Homo sapiens: one gene and its partners. The protein of the gene in region 1 purifies or fractionates together with the protein of each later gene. This does not show direct contact. Each region holds a gene or a part of one and is shown in the gene's direction. Other genes may lie near its edges. The genes, in order: BEND3, CERK, CEP135, GRHL1, PCDHGA9, SMARCA5 and BAZ2A.

What was found.
Region 2: the proteins of BEND3 (region 1) and CERK purify together in Homo sapiens (affinity purification with mass spectrometry; one large-scale study listed by BioGRID and IntAct). This does not show direct contact.
Region 3: the proteins of BEND3 (region 1) and CEP135 purify together in Homo sapiens (co-immunoprecipitation; one large-scale study listed by IntAct). This does not show direct contact.
Region 4: the proteins of BEND3 (region 1) and GRHL1 purify together in Homo sapiens (co-immunoprecipitation; one large-scale study listed by IntAct). This does not show direct contact.
Region 5: the proteins of BEND3 (region 1) and PCDHGA9 purify together in Homo sapiens (co-immunoprecipitation; one large-scale study listed by IntAct). This does not show direct contact.
Region 6: the proteins of BEND3 (region 1) and SMARCA5 purify together in Homo sapiens (affinity purification with western blotting; one study listed by BioGRID). This does not show direct contact.
Region 7: the proteins of BEND3 (region 1) and BAZ2A purify together in Homo sapiens (affinity purification with western blotting; one study listed by BioGRID). This does not show direct contact.

The regions. Positions count from the first base shown.
Region 1 is NC_000006.12:107,067,599-107,070,515, reverse strand, and holds part of BEND3 (BEN domain-containing protein 3), read left to right. Parts: coding exon 1-1,812; 3' UTR 1,813-2,917. UniProt on the Homo sapiens protein: Transcriptional repressor which associates with the NoRC (nucleolar remodeling complex) complex and plays a key role in repressing rDNA transcription.
Region 2 is NC_000022.11:46,707,253-46,710,752, reverse strand, and holds part of CERK (ceramide kinase), read left to right. Parts: intron 1-2,764; coding exon 2,765-2,910; intron 2,911-3,500. UniProt on the Homo sapiens protein: Catalyzes specifically the phosphorylation of ceramide to form ceramide 1-phosphate.
Region 3 is NC_000004.12:55,951,945-55,955,444, forward strand, and holds part of CEP135 (centrosomal protein of 135 kDa), read left to right. Parts: intron 1-141; 5' UTR 142-186; coding exon 187-299; intron 300-446; exon of another isoform or gene 447-527; intron 528-1,140; coding exon 1,141-1,331; intron 1,332-2,271; coding exon 2,272-2,439; intron 2,440-3,500. UniProt on the Homo sapiens protein: Centrosomal microtubule-binding protein involved in centriole biogenesis. Acts as a scaffolding protein during early centriole biogenesis.
Region 4 is NC_000002.12:9,965,193-9,968,692, forward strand, and holds part of GRHL1 (grainyhead-like protein 1 homolog), read left to right. Parts: intron 1-94; coding exon 95-189; intron 190-3,500. UniProt on the Homo sapiens protein: Transcription factor involved in epithelial development. Binds directly to the consensus DNA sequence 5'-AACCGGTT-3'.
Region 5 is NC_000005.10:141,405,778-141,409,277, forward strand, and holds part of PCDHGA9 (protocadherin gamma-A9 isoform 1 precursor), read left to right. Parts: intron 1-2,243; exon of another isoform or gene 2,244-2,425; coding exon of another isoform or gene 2,426-3,500. Other genes in the region: PCDHGB6 (protocadherin gamma-B6 isoform 1 precursor), read left to right, coding at 2,426-3,500. UniProt on the Homo sapiens protein: Potential calcium-dependent cell-adhesion protein. May be involved in the establishment and maintenance of specific neuronal connections in the brain.
Region 6 is NC_000004.12:143,523,702-143,527,201, forward strand, and holds part of SMARCA5 (SWI/SNF-related matrix-associated actin-dependent regulator of chromatin subfamily A member 5), read left to right. Parts: intron 1-665; coding exon 666-766; intron 767-1,749; coding exon 1,750-1,850; intron 1,851-2,579; coding exon 2,580-2,759; intron 2,760-3,500. UniProt on the Homo sapiens protein: ATPase that possesses intrinsic ATP-dependent nucleosome-remodeling activity.
Region 7 is NC_000012.12:56,595,096-56,599,326, reverse strand, and holds the end of BAZ2A (bromodomain adjacent to zinc finger domain protein 2A), read left to right. Parts: coding exon 1-198; intron 199-315; coding exon 316-459; intron 460-543; coding exon 544-709; 3' UTR 710-3,731; downstream 3,732-4,231. UniProt on the Homo sapiens protein: Regulatory subunit of the ATP-dependent NoRC-1 and NoRC-5 ISWI chromatin remodeling complexes, which form ordered nucleosome arrays on chromatin and facilitate access to DNA during DNA-templated processes such as DNA replication, transcription, and repair.

The DNA.
Region 1 (2,917 bases):
CGCATCAAGAAGCAGGTGAGCCCCACTGAGATGGTGGCCAAATTCCAGCCGCCCCCTGAGTACCAGCTCACAGCCGCAGAGCTCAAGCAGATCGTGGACCAGAGCCTGTCAGGGGGGGACCTGGCCTGCCGCTTGCTGGTGCAGCTCTTCCCCGAGCTCTTCAGCGACGTGGACTTCTCCCGGGGCTGCAGTGCCTGTGGCTTTGCGGCCAAGCGCAAGCTGGAGTCGCTGCACCTGCAGCTCATCCGCAACTATGTGGAGGTCTACTACCCCTCGGTGAAGGACACGGCTGTGTGGCAGGCCGAGTGCCTGCCCCAGCTGAACGACTTCTTCAGCCGCTTCTGGGCCCAGCGGGAAATGGAGGACAGCCAGCCCAGCGGCCAGGTCGCCAGCTTCTTTGAGGCAGAGCAGGTGGACCCCGGCCACTTCCTGGACAACAAAGACCAGGAGGAGGCCCTGTCTCTTGACCGGAGCAGCACCATCGCCTCAGACCACGTGGTGGACACGCAGGACCTCACTGAGTTCCTGGACGAAGCCTCCTCACCAGGCGAGTTTGCCGTCTTCCTCCTCCACCGGCTCTTCCCCGAGCTCTTCGACCACCGCAAGCTGGGTGAACAGTACAGCTGCTACGGGGACGGTGGAAAGCAGGAGCTGGACCCGCAGCGGCTGCAGATCATCCGCAACTACACGGAGATCTACTTCCCTGACATGCAGGAGGAGGAGGCCTGGCTGCAGCAGTGTGCCCAGCGCATCAACGACGAGCTCGAGGGCCTGGGGCTGGACGCGGGCAGTGAAGGCGACCCCCCGCGTGATGACTGCTACGACTCCTCCAGTCTGCCCGACGACATCTCAGTGGTCAAGGTGGAGGACAGCTTCGAGGGCGAGCGGCCGGGTCGCCGCTCCAAGAAGATCTGGCTGGTGCCCATCGACTTCGACAAGTTAGAGATCCCCCAGCCTGACTTCGAGGTGCCCGGTGCCGACTGCCTGCTCAGCAAGGAGCAGCTACGCAGCATCTACGAGAGCAGCCTGTCCATCGGCAACTTCGCCTCGCGCCTGCTGGTGCACCTGTTCCCCGAGCTCTTCACGCACGAGAACCTGCGCAAGCAGTACAACTGCAGCGGCTCCCTGGGCAAGAAGCAGCTGGACCCCTCCCGCATCAAGCTCATCCGCCACTACGTGCAGCTGCTCTACCCACGCGCCAAAAACGACCGCGTCTGGACCCTGGAGTTCGTGGGCAAACTGGATGAGCGCTGCCGGCGCCGGGACACGGAGCAAAGGCGCTCCTACCAGCAGCAGCGCAAGGTCCACGTGCCGGGCCCTGAGTGCAGAGACTTGACCAGCTATGCAATCAACCCCGAGAGGTTCCGGGAGGAGTTTGAGGGGCCCCCACTGCCCCCCGAGAGGAGCAGCAAGGACTTTTGCAAGATCCCCTTGGACGAGCTGGTGGTCCCCTCGCCTGACTTCCCGGTGCCTTCTCCCTACCTGCTGTCTGACAAGGAGGTGCGTGAGATCGTGCAGCAGAGCCTCTCCGTGGGCAACTTTGCCGCCCGGCTCCTCGTCCGCCTGTTTCCCGAACTCTTCACCGCCGAGAACCTCCGGCTGCAGTACAACCATTCCGGGGCTTGCAACAAGAAGCAACTGGACCCCACGCGGCTGCGGCTCATCCGCCACTACGTGGAAGCCGTCTACCCGGTGGAGAAGATGGAGGAGGTGTGGCACTACGAATGTATCCCCAGCATCGATGAGAGGTGCCGCCGCCCCAACAGGAAAAAATGCGACATCCTCAAGAAAGCAAAGAAAGTGGAGAAGTGAAGGCCCGTGACCTGCCCAGAGATTCGGGGTCACCAGAGGCTGAGCGATGGGCACCCTTGGGACTGAGCAATACTTGGGAGCACGCCTATGGCATCCACAGACAGGCACCTTATGTCCGTGGGGAGTGGCTTACTACATTTGCACACGTAAACACCCACCCAACCGCAAGAAAGAAGCCTTGAGTTTGGTCTCTTGTACTTACAACTTCTGTCCTATGTGCCCCGGCGGGGCAGCCTGAGTGTGGGGAGAGCAAGCTGTGAGGGCAGGGACCAGAGGTTAGGGGTCCTCTCTCCCTGGTTGTGCCCTCCCCAGCCCCTCACAGCTTATAATGCAAACCCAGCAACTCTCTTGCCCCTCTTCCCATATTTTACATCTTCCATTTTGACCCATTTTTTTTTAATTAAAAAGAAACCCTTAAAAAAAATCATTGGGCTCTTTGGGGGCCATTTTACTTAGAAAAAAATCTCTTTAAAAGTGCCATGTTCGTGCACAGTGGCTAATCATAGCTTCAGGTGGCATGGATACTGATTTTACTGACCTTGTTTTTTACATCTGATTTTGGAAGAGTCAAGATGCCCCTTGGATGGCAGTAGAGGGGATGGAATAGTGCGAAGTCCTTTACGACCACATGCAAGTTTTCCCTTCTGCTCTGGTGCCAGGGAAGGCTTCCGTTCAGCTTGGCCTGTCCTTCAGGCGCGTTGGTAGAATGTTGTGTCACTCTTTAGGCGAGAACACTGGATGATGATGATATGAATGTAGACAGCCGTGGAAACACGTTCGCAGTGTCTCCATCTGAGCCGTGTCCTTCCGCTGCCCCCATTCCTTCTCCATACATGGTTGCTGGTTGGAGGGAGTGGACATGTTTCCTTGGAAAACAGTGCAGGGGCTTTTGGCTTCTTGTTAGATTTAAGGGTGGGCCTCTTTGAGCTCACCATGAACTGTTTACTTTTCCGTGTGTGTATTTGTACAAAATCCAGGTTCCGGGAGCTTTGTGGTGACTTCCCCAGACCTCAGTGTTAGCTACTCCAGGCAGTACTACATCCTCATTCCTCAGGGCGGGCCCAGGTCTGGGCCCCTCTTGGGGATACCATGCATTGGAAGGACA
Region 2 (3,500 bases), on another chromosome or scaffold:
CAGTTTGGGATTCTTCTTTTCCCCAAAATTCCTAGAGATTTCCCAGAACTACTATTTTTAATGCCCATATCATGGTCCATTATGTGGGCATGCCATATTTATTTAGCCTCTCACTTGTAGATGTTCAGGCTCTTTCCAATTTTTGCTCTTAGGATAGCATTGTTGTACATAAATCTCTCTGCATACATCTACATTTTTAAGGTAAATTCCTAGAAATGAAATTAGTCATAGGAGATTAACATTTTAAAATCTCTGCCGTGTACAGCCATATTGCTTTCGAAAGAGATTCTATTAACTTACATTCTTTTTTTTTTTTTTCGTTTTTGAGGCAGAGTTTCGCTCTTGTTGCCCAGGCTGGAGTGCAATGGCGTGACCTCGGCAGCTTCGGCCTCCCAAGTCCAAATGATTCTCCTGCCTCAACCTCCCGAGTAGCTGGGATTATAGGTGCCCAACACCACGCCCAGCTAATTTTTGTGTTTTTAGTAGAGACAGGATTTCGCCATGTTGGCCAGGCTGGTCTCGAACTCCTGACCTCAGGTGATCCACGCGACCCGCCTCAGCCTCCCAAAGTGCTGGGATTACAGGCATGAGCCACCGCGCCCGGCCAGTTTACATTCTTTCTTATAGTATATTATTTACTGTCTTTGTCAACATGTTTGGTATTATCAGTATAAAATTTCTCTGCTAATTTGACATGTGAAAGTCTCTAATATTTTAAGAAATATGTTTATTGGCTAGCTGGCTTCTTGGAATTGATTTTTATGTCTTTGGCCCATTTTCTTTTGTTGGCCATAATTTCAGTCATTTGTTCTCTTATCCAACAAATAATAGGCAATTCATATTTATATTCATATTTTTGCAAATATTTTTGCTAATTTTGAAATTGTCTTTTAATTTTGCTTATGGCATTAATTCTTCCCAGTAGAAGTTTTCAAATTCATGTACTCAAGTCTGTCCAGCTCTTCTGTGCTGTTCTTTATGCTTAAAATTTCACTCTTCATCTTGAGTTTAGCTATTCCCCTGTAGTTAATTGCCTTGTCATTGGTTGGCTTTTTGTTTTCTTCTCTCTGTTCCATCTGGAGTCGGTGAGCAATGTGTTATAAATTGCAGCGGATATTTATTGAAATCATTATTCATTCCACAAACATTATTGAGGGTCCTCCAGGTCCCAGCACTCTGCTGGTGCTAAGGTTAGAAAGGGAAATAAAAGGAGCCCCTGCCCCCAGGTGCTGACAGGGAGACCCCTTTGCTCCCCTCCTAATGCGGGAGTGTTCTGTTCATGGGCTCCAGGAAGCAGGGGGCTCCTCCATGCACATCTCCCCAACTCCACCCGATGGCAGCTCCTCCATGTACTTCTTCCCACCACCTCCACCCGACAGCAGCTTGGCAGGAAGACAGTCGTCTTCACTTTTCAGCAGGGATGGGGCTGGCACCTTATTGCACCCACCCTAGCCAAGGGATCAGCCTCGCCTCTTGAGGGCACGCCTTCTCCCCAAACCCAGGGACATGCCGTGCAGGAGGCTGGGAGGCCTGGCCAGTGAGGGCTGCTCTTCCTGCGGCTGAGCTGTCTGTCTGAGTGATCTGTCTGTCTAACACACAGATGCTACACTGCCCATTCAAGGATGCCCTGTCCTCGAAACCACAGCCCCGCTGGGAAGGCTGCCCCGGTGCAAGGTGTAGGCTACGGGGAAGGGCAAAGAGCCTTCCCATGGGAGCCGGGCCCAAAGCAGGTGGCCTGAGTGGTGGGTGGTGGGCAGAGATCCCAGCCCTGGAGACTGGTCGCGCCTGCACAGACAGACCCACTGGGGAATGGGCAGGCACCTTGATGCTGTCATGCTTGAGGGAGGCCCCTCAGGCTGCACCCCCTAGTCGACTCACACCGCTCCTCTACCGGCGGACCTTCCCCCTGCAACCCTCTCTTCCCGGGTGATGAGAGCTCTTGGGCTGCCGTAGGCTATAGAGATGTCCAGGAAACCTGAGCCCTGTCCTCTGCCTTCCCTCTGGGCTGCAGTGACATGTCTGTCTCCATGCCTGCACCTCTCATTCTGCCACCTCAGTGTTGGTTCCCTGTGGGTTACCCCCGGCATAGGACAGCACACCCTGAAACCAACCCGTCCTTTCTCCCTTCAGCCACTGTCCCCTTTCTCCATCTCCTCTCCTTAGATTGTCTCATGCCCCATTTTGTCCGCATTTATTCCGTCCCCTCTGCTCTTGCCTTGGGTCCTCAAGACCACCCACACGGCTGGTGATTTGCTGCCTGAGCTAGAGTCGTGCTCTCGGCTGAGATTTCTGACGGGACAGAGCAAGGCTGCACAGCCAGCTTAGCAAAGGAGAAACGTCCCCGCGCAGACTGCTGTGCCTCTCCCGCAGTGCGGGTCACCTGGAGTGCACCCTCTCTGCTCCCACAAATGCAGCAGCACAGGTGTACTCTTCCCGCCCCGCAAACTTGAGTCCTGAGACCCAGAGTGTAGTGTTTTTGAGGGGGTACAGGCATGCAGGCATTCTCTGCCTAGCCACCCAAATTCCAGACTCACAGAAGGAAAGCCAGTATTTGCCATCAATCTCATTATTTGTACACGTGGTCTAGGCCAACTGGCACAGAGGCACGACCTTATCACTTAGGGACATTTCAGGAGCCGCACTTCTAGATGCCTGCCAAGGGCCAGGTGTGCAGGCTGCCCCTCCTGAAGCTGGAAGCCTCAGGCCTGCTGCGCTCAGAGGGCCGCACCTGCAGGAGCCCTGACCGGCTGTGTTCCTCCTGCAGCATCGTCTGTGTCGGCGGAGATGGTATGTTCAGCGAGGTGCTGCACGGTCTGATTGGGAGGACGCAGAGGAGCGCCGGGGTCGACCAGAACCACCCCCGGGCTGTGCTGGTCCCCAGTAGCCTCCGGATTGGAATCATTCCCGCAGGTATGGAGCCGGCCTGGCATTCTCTGTTCTCTTCGTTCCCGTCCTTAGGAATTGTTCTGCACAAGTAGCCACCTCGGACACTTAATAACCCAATTATACTCAGTTTAGTTCGTACAGATTTCCTAACATTAGGGCCACTCTTGGGGGGATATCATTGAGAGTATGACCCCAATGAAATAGACACTCGTGGAAAGGAAAGTTGCCCGACTCCCCCAAAGGCTGCTTCACGCAAGGCAGGAGAACCCCACCGCTGGGGGTGCAGTCCTGGAGTGGGGAACCCCCGGTGCCCGGGAGCAGGTGGGTAGGTTGGCAGGGGGTGCGTTCTGGAAGAAGTGGCTTCTGGACCTGAAGGAACCGGGAGTTAGGGGTGGGTGTGGGCAGGAATCGGGCTGGGGAGTTGGGAGGAGACTGAGTGGGAAAGGTGGGGGCGGAACCAAGGGCAGGACCTAGCCGAGCCCGGGAACAGCTGGGCTGTGTCCTGAAGTGCTGGTTCGGCTTGGTCCATTCAACATCCTTCTAGGAACCACCTTGTTCTTTGAAAAATCACAGTGTTAAGCTAAGTCAAGCTGAGGGCCTGAGCGTGGTGTGTT
Region 3 (3,500 bases), on another chromosome or scaffold:
TAAATCTGAATTTTCCAGAAGGCTACCTACCTGAAGAAAAACAAAAAATAATTGCTTCATATTAAAATAATTTTTTCTTCTTATTGTGAAACAACAATCATAGCTATAATAAGATAATGATGTTTCATTCTTTTCTCTCAGGACTTTAATTTTTGGAAGTGAATAAAACTTGTTTTAGAAGACGAGATGACTACAGCTGTAGAGAGAAAGTATATTAATATTAGGAAAAGGCTGGATCAGCTGGGATACCGCCAGACTCTGACAGTGGAGTGTTTACCTTTGGTAGAAAAACTTTTCAGGTAAAGACAAAAATACAGTTTTCAACCTTTATGATCCCTAACCACTTACCTCATTTCTGATTGAACTTCATGCTTTGGTAAAGAAAAGGGTAGCTTTCCGGAAAGGCTTTCAATCATGAAGCTTATCTGTTTTTTCCCTGTCCTCAATCCAGGCCTTCCACACGGCAGAACTCTAAAGGCCACCACTCACGCTGTACTGTTCAAAGTCAACATTTCTGGGGGTTTTCTCTGTGAATGGAATTACAGTTTTTTGGGTTTCTGATATAATTGAGAGACACTTTTCCCTTAAGTTCTTTTTTTTTCCCCCCCTTAAGTTCTATGTCTGCTTCACTGGTCTTCAAATACAGTCATGGATAGTTTCATGACAGGGATACGTTCTGAGAAACATGTCATCATTAGGTGATTTTTTCGTTGTACCAACATCATAGGGTGTGCTTACACAAACCTAGATGGTGTCGCCTACCACAAACCTAGGCTATATGGTCTGTATCCTATGGCTCCTAGGCTACAAACCTGTATAGCATGTTACTATACTGAATACTGTAGGTAATTGTTAACACAGTGGTGCCTATTTGTATATCTGAACATATCTAAACATAGAAAAGGTATTGTGTTGTGCTACAGTGTTACAATGGCCAGATCTCATGAGGCAATAGGAATTTTTCAGCTGCCCCCATTATAAATCTTACAGGACTACTCTCCTTCCTATATGTGGTCTGTCGTTGACCAAAATGTCATCATGTGGTGCATGACTGTATTTTAAGCCTCTTTAGAAATATGTTTTTAGTTATTAGAAAGTTAATGAAATATTTCCTGGTATTTAAATTTTCTGTTCTTTTAGCGACTTAGTTCATACAACTGAGAGCCTTCGGCAATCAAAATTATCTGCTGTGAAAGCTGAAAAAGAAAGTGCCAATTTTGATTTTGTTTTGGAACCCTATAAACTTGAAAATGCAAGATTGAGTAGAGAAAATAATGAATTATACCTAGAGTTAATGAAACTGAGAGAACATTCAGACCAACACGTTAAAGGTAAGTGAAAATTTGATAATTTTTAAAATGCAATGTCTTTGTCCTTTTTATTTTAGAAGGAAAAGCTAACGTCTAATTTTAAAACTATTGATTAGAAAATATAGTAGTCCTACAGCTGGATGGTGTGTGCCTATAGTCCCAGCTACTCGGGAGTTTAAGGTGGGAGGATTGCTTGAGCCCAGGAGTTTGAGACCAGCCTAGGCAACATAGTGAGAACTTGTTTCAAAAAAAAAGAAAAGAAAAGAAAATATGGTACTCCTTCTGCTAATAGCCCCTGAAATACTATAGGGTATGTTGAAGAGTTCCTGAGAAGGAAAATAAATGTGCATTATATAGCTATGATAATCACTATATGTGGATTAAATTTTTAGAATTAAAAATTTAATTAAAATTTTAGAATTAAAATTGCCATAGGGAATATTAAATGCTGGATTTGAAGAAATGTTCTTGAAACAACTTTTGTTTTTCCCTTACTGAAAATAAAAGTAGTAAATAAGGTGAAAACCATGTATCATGCTGACTGTTTTATAGTCAGTCTTTGAGCTGTCAAGTAGAATAGGATGATTTCAAAGGTACTAGGGAAAAGATAATTATATGGTTATCTTTGTATGAATTATTCTTATATTCAGTAGAAAACTTTATCTAATCCATGGTATGAATTCATAATCCTTTAGCTTCAGACCCAATTTACTGGATCAAAAGCTATGATGTACGTTAGGCTAATACAGTAGCTGAAAAATGAAGATTCTCTTTTGTGCTTAGTGAGTTATTTGCAGTTTTGTTAATAATAGTAGAAGAAGGAATAAGTGTCAACTAAAGCATGCATAAGAAGCAGGTGGAGACTTTTAAATTGATATGACTTTTTGTATTTTGTGAAATGGAAAAACTTCATTGGATTTCTTGATCTTTAAAACGGTCTTTGAATCTTTTTCATTTTAAGAGTTGAAAACTTCATTGAAGAAATGTGCACGTGAAACAGCTGATCTGAAATTTCTGAATAACCAATATGCTCATAAACTCAAACTGTTGGAGAAAGAGAGCAAAGCTAAGAATGAAAGAATTCAACAACTTCAAGAAAAGAATTTGCATGCTGTAGTACAAACTCCAGGTAAATCGATTCCTTCTCGAGACAAATTATACACATTTAATCTTTTAACGATATTAACACCATTGACTAAAATAGGACTTTGGATTGGATTTTCATGCTTAGACTTTAGTGTTTGAAAATATATATTGAATAGACCGTAAACTTCTTGATTTATTTCTAATGATCCGGGTAGTAATTTATACGTGTGCTTAGAAATGTATGTAGTATTAGTTACTTAGATACTAGTCTAACTTTAATGCCCAGAGCTTTCTCTAATCAATATTTTAAATTCTTTTTTCTATTATTATTATCATTATTATTTTAGTTGTAAAAGTAATCCATACTCATTAAAGAATTTGGAAATTATGTACTTTCTTAGTTTATTTTACTATTTTTAGCATTATGCTTAGTAGTTATAGAGCAAGAAAAGGAAATGATGGGTCCAGGTGCAGTGGCTCACACCTGTAATCCCACCACTTTGGGAGGCTGAAGTGGGCAGATCATTTGAGGCCGCTTCAAGACCTGTGTGGGAACGTGATGAAACCCCACCTCTACCAAAAATACAAAAATTAGCTGGGCATGGTGGCGCAAGCCTATAGTTCCAGCTACTTGGGAGGCTGAGGTGGGAGGATTGCTTGAGCCTGGGAGGCGGAGGTTGCAGTGAGCTGAGATTGCACCACTGCACTCCAGCTTGGGTGATAGAGTGAGACCCTGTCTCAAAAAAAAAAAAAGAAATGATGGGCCACATCCAGAGTTGGTGATTGTTCAGCAGGTATGGGTTGGTGGTAGAATCTACAATATTAGTGACAAAATCATTAAGATAGCTGAACCATGGGATCAAGATTATGAAATTAAGTGAGTAACAGGGGGCTGCTGGATTATGAGGCTAGGTCAAGACAGATTAAAGAGCATGATGAGTACCAAAAGTAATTTGTTTGCTATGAAGATTGCAGTCAGAGTGGAATTTTGGAGTTGAAGAACTAGAAGCCAGCAGAGTTCTGAGTGATGACAAAGGCCAAAGTGTATCATCTTATTGTGTGCCTGAAGTTGAGGGGAGAGGAGACTCCTGAGAGTGGACAGAT
Region 4 (3,500 bases), on another chromosome or scaffold:
ATGCTAAAAACTAGATCTTATTTTGAACTGCTGGGATCCCATGTTGAAACTAAGACTCATGAGTTTTCATTTTCTCTTCCACCGCTTCCTGTAGCTGACTATAAAGAAAGCTTCAACACTATCAGTAACATCGAGGAGATTGCGTATAACGCCATTTCCTTCACATGGGACATCAACGATGAAGCAAAGGTGGGTGGTGAGGTCTGGGCGCCTTATGTCCAGCCATTTGAGAAATGGGAGGAGTTTAATGATTTGACAACTGATTTTTTTTTTTTTCACAGTTTTATGTGTTTCATTCTCAGGTGTTATGAAACTATCCTCTTCCCTTTTTATTCTCCCCTCCTCCAAAACAGATCATTTTTGTTGCCATCCTTTGCACAGAGTCCAGTGTGTGAAACATTGAGATTAAGTTGCACTCTGCCACTCCTGCCTGTTCAGCCTTGAGTCTGACTCCTCATTTGCTTTGCCTCATTTCCTCATTTGCACAGTGGAGGTGATATCTGTCTCCTCCCTCTATTGAAGGAGGTGTAAGGAGTAATGAAACAATGCCCATCAAACTGTTGGAGTGGCTTTGAGAAAGGCTCTTAAATATAAGTGATTATTAGTAGTACTCTGTTTCATATCATCACCTTGTAAATATGACTCTGTGTTAAGATTCTTCTGTCTTGGGCTTTTCCCATTGAAGAGTTGCCTCCAGTTCAGTTGGAGTAACTCTAATTGGCTAGAGTTACTCCTTGTGGGCGACTCTAATGGGAATTTTTGTGCCCTTGAAGAAAAATTCAGCATATTCCTAAGTCCTTTCTGCCTTGCCCCTGCCTTCTTCCCTGTGAGTGTGATCCTTCTCCACTCAATTATTAGAGTTCCTGTATTTCTTTCTTTCTTTGGATTACTTTAAAAACTGGGAGCTCAAGAAACTGAATAGAGGCCAGAAGTGGTGGCTCACACTTGTAATCCCAGCACTTTGGGAGGCTGCGGCGGGTGGGTCACTTGAGGCCAGGAGTTTGAGACCAGCCTGGCCAACATGGTGAAACCCTGTCTCTACTAAAAATACAAAAAGTAGCCAGGCGTGGTGGCACACGCTTCTAATCCCAGCTACTCTGGAGGTTGAGGCAGGAGAATCGCTTGAACCCGGGAGACGGGGGTTACAGTGAGCTGAGATCACGCCACTGCACTCCAGCCTAGGCAACAGAGTGAGACCCTGTCCCCCCCAAAAAAAAGAAAAAAAAAACTCAATAGAAACATAGGTGATTTTTCAGACAGTTGTTAACAGAAGACTGATCTTTAGTTTTCCTTACAATATTAGGTATAGCATTCTCTCAGAGACCTGGTAGAAAGAAGTGATGTTCATCTTCTTGTCCTTTCTCAGTCTCTGTTTTTTACTTTTTCTTTTATTTATTCAATAAGAATTTTAGTAACTTTTAGAATAAGACACTGTATTAGGTGCTGACTATTAGGGTTTCATTTTATCCTGCCCCAGAATGCTTTTGAAAATCATGTGACTGGGTCTTGAGAGCCATGTTCTGCTTGTATTATAATTGCTTTTCTTTCTTATCGTTGTCATCATGTCCAAGACAAACATGTGCCTTTCAGGCTGCAGACTCTAGGCAGTTGGGCCCACCAGGCAGTGAGGAAGCTTTAGGTGATTGTGGCTTTAGAAGGGTTTTCCTGCCAACCACCTCAGTCACATACAATTGTCAGGTGGCTGCATAGTCCGGAGTTTGTTGCTTGGCTAAGCAATAAATAGAGAAACTTTCCATTTTATATAATTGTTGTTACAGTTGTTTTGAAATTAAATATCATAATAGGACTCAGTCCACTGGCTACTACGAACAGCCTATGAAAAGTATTGGCCTTGTGCCCCAGGATGCTTTTATTCTTAAAGCAAACTGGAGTGTTACTTGCTGTTTGCCATTGGGGCCTCACTGAGAAATTGTGGAGGAGGCGATAAAGAGCCCATAAGTCCTGAGTTCCCTTTTCCAACTTATCCATGACCTTGGGTTAGTCCCTCAGTTCACTAGCTCAGTCCTTTCCCCTTGATCCCCCAGGAGAGTCACGAGGTTAGAGTGGCCAGCTCTTCTTCGTTGGGTGTGGTCAGGATTAATAAGCGCTTGTCATAGGCTTGGAGATCTTGGCCGAAAGGCCCAGCGCATGGGCAGGGCGCTTTGTTTGTTTGATGTGTCACTCTTTGGGGTGGGAGTAATGAAAGCCAAGATGACGGGTAGGGATAATGGCTTGTTTTATTCTGAAGGCCTGCAGCATATTTGTATTAGAAATATTGTTGGAGGAGTGGCTTAAGTAGCCTTAATAGCATTGCTAATTGATGTAGGTAAACTCAGTTTCATTTCCCCTTTCAGACCCCCAGCACTGACGTGATTTTAAGCCTTTGCCTGCCGCCAGAAGGGTGTTGTGCCATTTCTTAATGAGGCTGCTGTCTTTTTGAAGCTGATATCAGGCAGCAACTTCAAGCATGTGTTCTAATTAAGTATCGAGGTTTTTTGCTTTCCCTGGCCAACTTGATGTTTTCTGTTTTTATTCTTAAAGTAATTAATGCCTCAGGGCAGCAAGAGTGAACAAGTGTACATGCAGAATCCTGTATAGTTGGTTTTTTTTTTTACTGTTTTCTGAAAATATCTACTTTCTTTGCCCACTTTCTTGTTCTCATTTAGGATGCATTTGTTGATTTCTTTTTTTAATTGTAAGATTTATACTTGGCACATAATAATTGTACATATTTATGTGGTATTTGTTAATATGATTTCCAGTTCTTTCTCCCTCACAAACATAAGGGTTTATTGGAGCTATGTGGCATTTCCTCCCCTCCCCTTTTAGTGATCTCTAATGTACCCTTTTGGCCATGCCAGGATGAGTAAAACTGAAAATCTGTCAACATCTGAATCTTACCTGTAGCTTCTGCTTCTCCGTTTGGAAATGATGATAGTTTGAGGATGTTTTGGGTTGAATTGTGAATGCTTTGGCTTACATTCCACTTTGGGAAAAACACTGACGAAGCTAGGACCTATCTTACACTGGCCCTGTGTGCACTCCATTCATCACCATAAACATATGTCTGCCATTGTCATGGAAACTTTCGGAAGTTTTGGAACTTGTGAAAATTTGTTCGTTTTCAAAGTGGTGGAAGAGAAGGAAGTTGCTTTTTGAAAAGCAGAAATGTCTCAGAAACAGGCCCTTAGTGGGATTTGTCTGCTGTGTAGACGTATTTCATTCCTTTTATTGTCCTTCCACAAAATTAGATTTGTTTGGGTAGTTAAGAGTCAGAGGTCTCTGGACAGGTTAAAGGCCATGAGGCGTTCACATTTCATTGTGAAATAATCAGTATTCTTCCTGATGCACAGCTGAGATTAGCTGCTTGAGGTAATTTTTGCAGAGAGAAGAAGCAATTGCCTTTGAAGCATTAAAAGATGGAGCTTTGGTAAGATGCTGAAGTTTAGGATTTGCAGGACAAGATGAGGGCACTGGTCTCCTGCAGAAGAGAGGCCTAG
Region 5 (3,500 bases), on another chromosome or scaffold:
CTTAACTTTCTATTATAGTTAGCTTTCTCTTTAACTGTCTGTACTTAAGGTAGTATAAGTTGATATCAGTGTGTTTCTCATCACTTTTCACTGGGCCTAATTGTTGCTCCAACACTGAAAGGAGGCATTTATTAGTTATATTTGCTGATATAACTTTCATGTTCTCATAATAATTAACCTGCTGTCAACGTAAACCATACTTCATGGGGTAGCTCTCAGCCTGCATTGATGTGGGCTTTTTGGGTAGGGTTGCTTCATTGGTTGCAGTGGACTCATATCATAAAATTCTTACTCCTTTTTTTTTTTTTTTAAGAGATGGGGGTGTCATTCTGTTGTCCAGGGTGGAATGCAGTGGTGTGGGTAAAGCTTACTGCAGTCTCAATCTCCTGGGCTTATGCAATCCTCCCACCTCAGCCTTCACAGTAGCTAGGACTGAGGTGGGAGGGCTAGCAAGCTATGTTGCCCAGACTGGTCTCAAACGATCTTCCTGCTTCAGTTTCCCAAAGCACTGGGTGAGGTGTGAACCACCTCACCCAGCAAATTCTTACTCCTACGATCATTTATTCAGGTCATACTATGTTTGTAAGGGTAAACTGATAAAAAGGTAAATGTATTCTTCTTAGAGAAACAGCTGAAAGCCCAGATTTATTGCTTCTATTCTTCCATTTCTATGACAGGAAAACACCTCTTTGAGGTTATATTTTTCAGATCACAAGTGTGTAAAGTCTGTTTGTGTTTACAGATATTTTCTGACGAAGATTCAAACTTCAGTTATCCACTTCCAAACCCTAGTAAACCAATTTTTTCCCTTTAATGGTGAAAGTTGTCACATCTTTTATTCTCATATCTTCAAAGGTCTTAATTTCCTAATGCTTTAATGTTAAATTATGGAGAATAGTAGGACATTCTTCTTTTCTATAGTATATGCTTGCTCAAGAGAAGTTTCTAAGACTGGACACTGTGAAATGACAAAACAAGGAATTAAAAATATTTCTCTCACTTATATATTATTTCTGGCTCAATTCTCCAACTTTTGAGTCTAGAAATGAACTTGCATATCAGATATAATTTAAGAAAATATTCTCAGGAACTGCTGGGAAGATTCTAAAACTATTTTACTGTTTTTAGCTATAAGGAAGAGAATAATGTATTATTTAATGTTATTTTAAACATAGTGTTGTTTCAAATAGTAAATAACATTTCACAAGACATTTGAAAATAAGCTTTGAAGTTGACTCAAAATTCTATGCTAAACATGTGATCCATAGATACACTGATGACTGCTGGCATTTCTGTGGAAATGAAGAATTGTTTTATTTGTTTGTAATTATTTGGGTTTCAGTTGCTTTATTTTTAAGAAAAAAAAGCTGAAGTGTCTGGGAATCCTTTATGACATACAGACATTTTAATTATTTCAAACACGTTTTCCCCCTTAAGTGGGTAGCAAAAAAAATAAAGCATACTTCAGGCTCATATTTTTAACCATGCAACAAGAAAATTGTTACAATTTCTGTTCTGAGGAGTAGCCTTCATACTTAGTATTTATAAATATTGAAATGTATGTTAATTTGGGGAAAACATAACAGATATCCATGAAGGCTTGTATGTCATGGTAGGTAGTTACTATTCGATACCACAAAAATGTCTCTTGCCCTTAAAACCAGAACACGAGGCTCACCAGACAGATGACTGAATGGAGTATGGAAAATCTTTATTTCTGTTTTTCTTAGGCTATGTAGGACTTAACTTATTGTGCATTGGTAACAGATTGTAGAACATAAGCTGAAAGATAAAATTCTTGACCTTAATGTCTCATCTTAAAAAGAAGCATTGGTTGACATTCTATATCTCGTATTACTTAAAAATAATGGGGGAGCGCAGTATATATTAAACAAAGATTGGCTTTGTGGTGATCATTGTTGAAGGTGGGGTGATGGCTATGTGAAGGTTCACTATATATACTCCCTACTGTTGTATAAGTTTGAAATTGTGCATAATAGATTTATTTAAAACACAAAGCATAGAAATATCTACTATAATATTATGGTGAGAGCAAAATTTGAGGGGGATGTACACCTGCATTTTCGAAGAATATATACATTTCGGAGACCGAATTCAAAATGAAAAACCGGGCTGCTGTCCCGCACGGAGCCTCTGGGCGCCGCTGTCGGCCAGTGCAGAGCAAGCGCTGACGCCGGGGATCCGTCAGCCTCTGGCCTGGGATTCCCTGCGCAGCCAACAACAGAAAGAAGAAAACCAGCTCCCACACAGAGCCTCCCGGCTGCGCAGACCTTTCCCAGCACAGCGGATTGCCAGCTCCGAGACCCGGGACTCCTCCTGTCCTGGGCCGAATGCTCTTTTAGCGCGGTAGAGTGCACTTTCTCCAACTGGAAAAGCGGGGACCCAGCGAGAACCCGAGCGAACGATGGGAGGGAGCTGCGCGCAGAGGCGCCGGGCCGGCCCGCGGCAGGTGCTATTTCCTTTGCTGCTGCCTTTGTTCTACCCCACCCTGAGTGAGCCGATCCGCTACTCGATTCCGGAGGAGCTGGCCAAGGGCTCGGTGGTGGGGAACCTCGCTAAGGATCTAGGGCTCAGTGTCCTGGATGTGTCGGCTCGCAAGCTGCGAGTGAGCGCGGAGAAGCTGCACTTCAGCGTAGACGCGGAGAGCGGGGACTTACTTGTGAAGAACCGAATAGACCGTGAGCAAATATGCAAAGAGAGAAGAAGATGTGAGTTGCAATTGGAAGCTGTGGTGGAAAATCCTTTAAATATTTTTCATGTCATTGTGGTGATTGAGGATGTTAATGACCACGCCCCTCAATTTGATAAAAAGGAAATACATTTAGAAATTTTCGAATCTGCATCCGCTGGTACACGACTATCGCTTGACCCTGCCACGGATCCTGATATAAACATAAACTCAATTAAAGATTATAAGATAAACTCTAATCCTTATTTTTCATTAATGGTTAGAGTTAATTCCGATGGTGGCAAATACCCAGAGTTATCTCTGGAGAAACTCCTAGACCGGGAAGAACAGAGATCTCATAGCTTGATATTGACTGCCTTGGACGGAGGGGACCCACCAAGAAGTGCCACCGCTCACATAGAAATTTCTGTCAAGGATACCAATGATAACCCCCCGGTTTTCAGCAGAGACGAATATAGAATTAGTCTTAGTGAAAATCTGCCCCCTGGGTCCCCTGTGTTGCAAGTGACAGCCACTGACCAGGATGAGGGGGTCAATGCTGAGATAAACTACTACTTCCGAAGCACTGCCCAGAGCACAAAACATATGTTCTCATTGGATGAGAAAACAGGTATGATTAAGAATAACCAGTCATTTGATTTTGAAGATGTAGAAAGGTACACCATGGAAGTGGAAGCGAAGGACGGAGGTGGTCTCTCTACCCAGTGTAAAGTAATCATAGAAATCCTTGATGAAAACGACAACAGCCCAGAAATAATCATCACTTCTCTCTCTGATCAGATTTTGGAGA
Region 6 (3,500 bases), on another chromosome or scaffold:
AAATTAGATTCAGCGGTCTCAACAGAGGCATAACGTGCCTTTTTCTAAATAAGATGAAAATATTTGTTGAAAGTGTCAGAATTGGGGAGTAAGTATTAATAGTTTTACTGAACCAAGCCCTTTAGAGATTAATTGGCAGTATTAAAACTTTAGAAAATCAGTTTTTAAGGGGGTAGTATATCTGATTCTCTTAGGATGTAGAATTTAGATGTGTATTTAAAAATTTTTTTGATGAATCCGTGGTCACTGCTTAAATTTCTGAGTCCTTATGCTGCAGCTTTTGCTCGAAGTTACAATTTTAAACATGTGGTTTCTGGAACTTTTTTTTCCTTGGCAAAAAGATTTTTAAAAAGGTACACTTTAAAATTCAAATAATGAGATTTTCTGACTACATAGTTCTTGAAATTTGACTATCATATTTGAGTTTATTGGGTTCTGGTTAATGTATCGTACTGGTGTATTTTAATAACTAATGTATATTTTAAATAATTATTTAAAACATTGCAGATTTAAATGTACTCATATTTTCTACTGTCCACTGGTTGATGCCTGTTAAAAATTTAATTTTGTGGAATCTTGGTCAGCCACTTGACTATGATGTTTAAACAGTAGCTGATAATTAAAGCCAAAACTCAAATCAGGTTATTTTATTTTCATCTTAACAGTTACCGACACCGTAGAACAGAGCAAGAGGAGGATGAAGAGCTATTAACAGAAAGCTCCAAAGCAACCAATGTTTGCACTCGATTTGAAGACTCTCCATCGTGTATGTTAAACACACTTGATTTTTTTAAAAAATTGCCCTTTGAGATCTCCTTTGGTTAATGTTTTGGATTTGTGTTGGCTACTATTTGTGAAGCAAATTTTTAGTAGTCTTAGATGTTTATTGGTTATGAAATAAACTTCAGATTTTGATGGAGATGAGAGCATATTACAGGATAGTAGTGCTGTATTTCAAAGTTATATAAAATGTCATTGTGTTTGTTATTGCCCTGAAGTATATGTAAATCTAAGGATCGTTTTGCTTTATATTTGTCCCACATAAGAAAACTAATTTATTTTAAAAAAGGTACTTCATGAACACATTTGCTTACTTCTGATGTTTTTATATTAATTTAATTTTTTGTGAAATGTATTTGTTTATTGGTTAGCTTTTTATCCTCAAGTGTTTTTCAAAAGGAGATGGAGGGCTACACTGTGTACATATTAAAAAAGAAAAATCAGGTGACCGTTATGTATATTTGGTAATTATTCTGGGGAGCAAAATAAGTAGTATACCCTGAAAGAGAGTGCATTGGAATGTATAAGATATATTGGACAAGTAACTTAGGAATTTCCTATTTCTTTTTTTTTTTTTTTTACTAGAAAGAAAATAAAATCCCCAGATAACCTGTATCTGGTCTTTATGAAAGCTGAAAATACTTGGTTAGGAACACTTGGTTTTTCATTAAAAAGACGAGAGGCCAAAGAGTCTCTCAGACCAGTATATGGGTAACGTAAGAACTGAGTTGTTGGAGTGGGTACTCTGATGCCCGCAGTCATGTTTCCCGCACTTGATTATCTTCCATGTCCAGCTTTTCCACTTCAGACCATGGCAGCTACCTCTAGTATTTTGGAACTTGCAGAGTTCCTATTCAAGAATCCGTTAGTAATGAAAATAAAGTCAGTAGATATGTGTAGGCTTAGATGAAGAGATTGCCTTGTATTTCTTGTCTTAAAATGCCTATTGTGCTTTTCTTTTGTTCTTAGATGTAAAATGGGGTAAACTGAGAGATTATCAGGTCCGAGGATTAAACTGGCTCATTTCTTTGTATGAGAATGGCATCAATGGTATCCTTGCAGATGAAATGGTATGTGTTGGTAGTTTTTTTTGAAGGGTATGTTTTGTATTGAAAATATCTTATACGTTGATAAAAGTTTCTTACAGTCTACAACTGTTAGCAAATGGATCCTCTCAGAAACTAGTATAAGCAGCTTGCCTTAGTTGCATAAGTGTGATCTGTATTTTAATTGTGAGAAATTTCCATCGCTGAAAATATGATAAATTTAAAAAGAATACATTTGAGAAACATGTTTTTGGATGACTTTTATAGTACAATGATTTATTTGCTTCCAGTTTTGTAAAACAAAAGTGAGGTCATTAATTGTTTATAATTGATAAATGTTTTTTCCAGGTGGTAGCTTGTACAATTCTTAGAAAACATTTATCTTTTGTTAACTACTAGTTATGTAATGAATGTTTAAAAAAGTTTCCTTATTGCTATAATGCTAAAACGTTTAATTGGTTGGAGAAAGTATGAAGTCAAAAGAAATGTGTTTCAATGCTAGCTCTGCTAGATGACTTTGGGAATGTCACTTAAACGGGGCCTTATGCGGGTGATAATAATACCTCCTTTAGAGACTTGTGAAAATTATATGACATAACACTTACAAACTTTGATATATGTTAAGTTTTTGCCATTTATTAACTGTTATAAATATGTAGCATTTCTTTTGAACATTTCTATATGTTGGGAGGTATAATTGTGAAATAATATTTTCATTTTTCACTGCTTCATGGTTATTTTGAAATCTTTCAGGGCCTAGGAAAGACTCTTCAAACAATTTCTCTTCTTGGGTACATGAAACATTATAGAAACATTCCTGGGCCTCATATGGTTTTGGTTCCTAAGTCTACATTACACAACTGGATGAGTGAATTCAAGAGATGGGTACCAACACTTAGATCTGTTTGTTTGATAGGAGATAAAGAACAAAGAGTAAGTTTCTAGTATTTCATTACATTTTTGAGGCTAAAATAATTTGAATTCAGGCTTGGGTATGGGTATAGCTGGAAGAAGGATAAATGAGACGGGATCTTCGCAAATATTAGTATTTACAAATGTAGCATTGTCTTGGTGGATAAAAAACAGCACTTTGGGAGGCCGAGGCGGGTGGATCATGAGGTCAGGAGATCGAGACCATCCTGGCTAACACAGTGAAACCCCGTTTCTACTAAAAACTCAAAAAATTAGCTGGGTGTGGTGGCACGCATGGCCTGTAGTCCCAGCTACTTGGTAGGCTGAGGCAGGAGAATCGCTGGAATCTGGGAGGTGGAGGTTGCAGTGAGCCGAGATGGCGCCACTGCACTCCAGCCTGGGCAACAAAGCAAGACCATCTTAAAAAAAAAAAATCATACTGGGAAGAAGACATTAGAAATGGTAGAAAGCTGTAAGACTGTAGTTTGTTTCTCTCCCTTTTGGGAGTGGTTGTATAAAATCATTGGTTGTGCTCTCATTAGAAGTTATTTTCTTGTTTTTAAAAGATATTTTGAAATGTGAGTTGGTTGGAAATTTAAGGAGCCACATTTTTAGATGAATGTGTGTAGTGGTAATAGTCACAGAATTAGAGTTTTTAAAGACGGGTTGAGTCATATATAGTAATTTGGTGATTTATTATGATATTTAACAAAATAAGTTAAAATTTCGATCAGTTGACAACATCCTTGTGGGAAGAAGAGA
Region 7 (4,231 bases), on another chromosome or scaffold:
TTTCCCAAAGCGTGGCCAGAAGCGGAAAAGTGGTTATTCGCTGAACTTCTCAGAGGGTGATGGCCGCCGACGCCGGGTACTGTTGAGGGGCCGAGAAAGCCCAGCAGCAGGGCCTCGGTACTCGGAAGAAGGGCTCTCCCCCTCCAAGCGGCGGCGACTCTCTATGCGGAACCACCACAGTGATCTCACATTTTGCGAGTGAGTTGAGTGAATCCTGGGGGGACAGTTGGCTCTACCTCTGCCAGAGGAAAGGGCTGGGAGGGGTCAGTATATTTGCTTCCTGAGATGGAGCCATCATTGTCCCTCTAATGATAGGATTATCCTGATGGAGATGGAGTCCCATGATGCAGCCTGGCCTTTCCTAGAGCCTGTGAACCCACGTTTGGTGAGTGGGTACCGGCGCATCATCAAAAATCCTATGGATTTTTCCACCATGCGGGAGCGGCTGCTCAGGGGAGGGTAAGTAGATGTGGGTGAACCGCCCGGTCTTTGCTACTGCTGCAACTCCTACCCAGCTCACAGTTTTGCCCCTGCCCTGTCCAGGTACACCAGCTCAGAGGAGTTTGCGGCTGATGCCCTCCTGGTATTTGACAACTGCCAGACTTTCAACGAGGATGACTCTGAAGTAGGCAAGGCTGGGCACATCATGCGCCGCTTCTTCGAGAGCCGCTGGGAGGAGTTTTATCAGGGAAAACAGGCCAATCTGTGAGGCAAGGGAGGTGGGGAGTCACCTTGTGGCATCTCCCCCCACCTTCCAAACAAAAACCTGCCATTTTCACCTGCTGATGCTGCCCTGGGTCCAGACTCAAGTCAGATACAACCCTGATTTTTGACCTTGCCCTTGGCAGTGCCCCACATCCTCTTATTCCTACATCCCTTTCTCCCTTCCCTCCTCTTGCTCCTCAAGTAAGAGGTGCAGAGATGAGGTCCTTCTGGACTAAAAGCCAAAAAAAGAAAGAAAAAAATAATTTTTCTTTTCTGTTTTATTTGCTAATTAAAAATGGGGAGGGGGAAAGTCGTCCCTACTTCCTCCTCCCTGCTTCCTCTCCTCCCCTGTACGTGCCCCAGCATTCTGGGGTTATTTAACAATAGCAATAGTTCTAGTGAATGTGTGAAACCAAGAAACACTCTGTACTGTGTGCGGACCCGCAGTGACGGCCAGTAAAGTGGACTTAACTCCCAAGTGTGTCGCGCCGGACACCGGGCCCTGGACATGCTGCTTCCATGTTCAGTCCCTTCCCTGCTTCTCGCTGTCTTTCTTTTCCCACCTCCCACCCCCCAGTTTTCAGATTTTCTCTCATCCAATAATGTAAAACTATCGTGTACGGGTTCCTCCCTCCTTTTCTCTTCTCCCAAATCTTTTCCCTTCAAAGGAAAAAAAAATGTTCAGAGGTCCCTGTCTTCTGTCCCCATCTTCCTGCCGATAGCTATCCCCTGTATGATGTTGGATGCTCCTCACATGCTGAGTTTCCAGCCTTTTCTGAAACTCAGTAGCTGGGGAGAGGGCAGGGAGGCTTCCTGGGCCTTCCAGCCTCCTTCCCCACCTCCTTCCCAAACCCTCTTGGGAACTCCTCAGGGACAACTACTGCTGAGTTTGGGTGCACCCTAAGATGGAGGCCAGGTAGCAATGGGGCCGGCCTCAGAGAGAGCGCTGTGTGTGTGTGTGTGTGTGTGTGTGTGTGTGTGTGTCGGCCTCAGAGCGCGCTGTGTGTGTGTGTGTGTGTGTCAGCCTCAGAGCGCGCGCTGTGTGTGTGTGTGTGTGTGCGTGCTTGTGACCCTGTATTGTTTGATAGGATCCATTCAGTTTCCCCAAGTACCTGTTTTCATTCCCATTTTTCCCATTGTTTAAAACCATCACTTTTTTGTCTTTGGGAAACCACAGGAACAATTTCTCTGGAGACAAGGCTGTGTCTCTCTCCTGGTCATTTTTGTTCCAGCCTCTTCAGACTGTGCAATCTTTCAGCAGGAACTCCCTCTCTTCTCGGTAGCTTTGAATCTTAAGCTTCTACGGGAGAGTGGTAGAACTGGATCATTTCCTAATCCCATTTAGTTGTGCTTTTCTTCATTTACTTCATACCCCAGGACCCCTTCCCCAGCAGCAGAGACCCTGGAGCACAGGAGAGTAGGGAGGAGGGGTTCTGGGTCCATCACTGCCCTACATGTGACTATGTCCAAGTTAAGCCCCCAACACGAGAGGAAAGCTGCTGACTCCCAGCTATAGCCATGGGCACTTGGCCCCCTGCTTTTCCTGCTCAGCAGAGCCCCTCCCTTCAGAGATTACGGGTACTTGCACTGGGGAGGTGGCTGCTGGCTGGCCCAAGCAGAGAGCTGAGGCATCCAAGAAATGTTCCATTGGGGGGTGGGGGTGCCAGGTGAGGTGGAGCATTCCTTGTATTCTGGCAGCACTGAAGAGCCACTGAAGGGGGTAGGGGCAGTGTAGGTCCTGGGGCAGCCCCTTTATTCCTTTATGCCCCTTCTCCCTCATAGCCTATTTCTAAAGTCGCCTTTTCTGTCAGATAAACCTCAAAACTTTTAATTTTATTTGAGATTTTTTTTTGCTTTTAAGAGGTGGATTGAAGAATATTTGAATTGACTTTATATTATGCATAAATATTTATATTTTATCTAAATAACTGCGCTGTAACAAACTTTGTGTTAGACAGTTGAAACTGTTAGAGTTGGGGGCTCTGCTTTTTCCCCCTGGCAATTTTCCCCTGGTATAAGATGTGCTAGATTAATTTCATTGTGAGGTGGATGGGGGAGTGAAATTGTGAGGTGGATGGGGGAGTGAAATCTCCATGGTTCCTGCTTTGTGTTCCTCTCCCAGCTCCATCTCTTTCCCTAGGGACCAGGCACTCATATGGCGGGGTGGGGTCCTAGCCTCAGTTTGAAGAAGTGGGGGCTGGAGCGGGGTTGGGGGTGGTAGGGATAGGGCATGATCAAAGGGGCCATTTCTTGCTTTTCTTTCCTCATCTTCACTGCCCCCTTGAGCTAGGTGGATTTTCTCTTCATGACAAGAGTATTTGGTAGGGAAAGCAGGTTTAAAATAAAAAGACAACCCACCCCCTGCCCTTTTGCTTCCCTCCCATCAGTCTGGTTGACAGGAAGAAACCACACCATCAACACCAACAAGTTTCTGTGTTCCTTTTACAGCAAAAGGGACTTTTTATATAACCAAATGTGGTGTTTTAGTGACTTTTTGATAATGTACAGTTTTTTGTGAATTTAAATTTATTTCTTTCTATATTTTTAGGACCAATCTCATTTTTAATAAGGTTAAAAAGAAAAAAAAAGTCTAGCGAAAAAACTCCTGTTTTTGCCATGTGATGTTCCACAAGTGCAGCTGTAGAAAAGTGCTTGTCAGTTGTTGAATAAAAAAAACCACATTTGATAGAGATTCAAAAGACTCTGTGTATTCATCTTCCCTTCTACACACCTGAGGGGGAGACGGCGTTGGGATAGGTATGACTGGCTTAAGAGACCACAGGCAAGGGAACAACAGGGGCTCCTGTTCCATACCCTCTGTGTGGATGGAAAGGGTCATTAGTGCTCCTGCCTAAATGTCTGGCTGAGTTGCTGGAGCAAAGGGGGATTCAGTGCATCCAGGTCCTGCCTTGTGAGATGTGGCCCCAGCTTCCTAAGCTGCCACCTCTGTGTTCCTGTCATAGCAAATATGGGACCATCACCAGCTTACCACTTCCCACTCACGGATAAGACACCAAGACGTAGACTTTTGTGTTTTATTTAAAAAAAAAAAAGTGTGAAGTAAGACAAAATGGACCTCTACCAAGTTGTAGGGAAGGACAAGGAAAAGACCAGGGGTAGAAAAGGAGTGTAAGTTTTAGAATGGTGGCATTGGCATAGATGTGGGAAGAGTATAAAACTAGAAGAAGTCTCCAGATAAAAATATGCAAAATATGTCTGTTTAAGTATAAACATTTTCTGTCCACATGCAAAGAGGTGTTTACCCACCCAAAAAGGGTATATGTTGGAGTGGGGACTTCACTCGCGCTGGATATGTATTACCCTCCAGCCTGGAAACTTTGTCTTGGTGCAACCCCCTAAACTGTATGTTAAGGTAGAAAAGGAACATTCGCTTCCAGCCTTATAAAAATGACAGACTCCCTCTTTGGTGTTTGGTTACCTTCACAGCTATACGCCAGCCACTGAGCAGCTTTCTTGTCCTCTTAAGTTCTAAACTCTGCTCCTATGCTGGTGTCCTCCAACCATT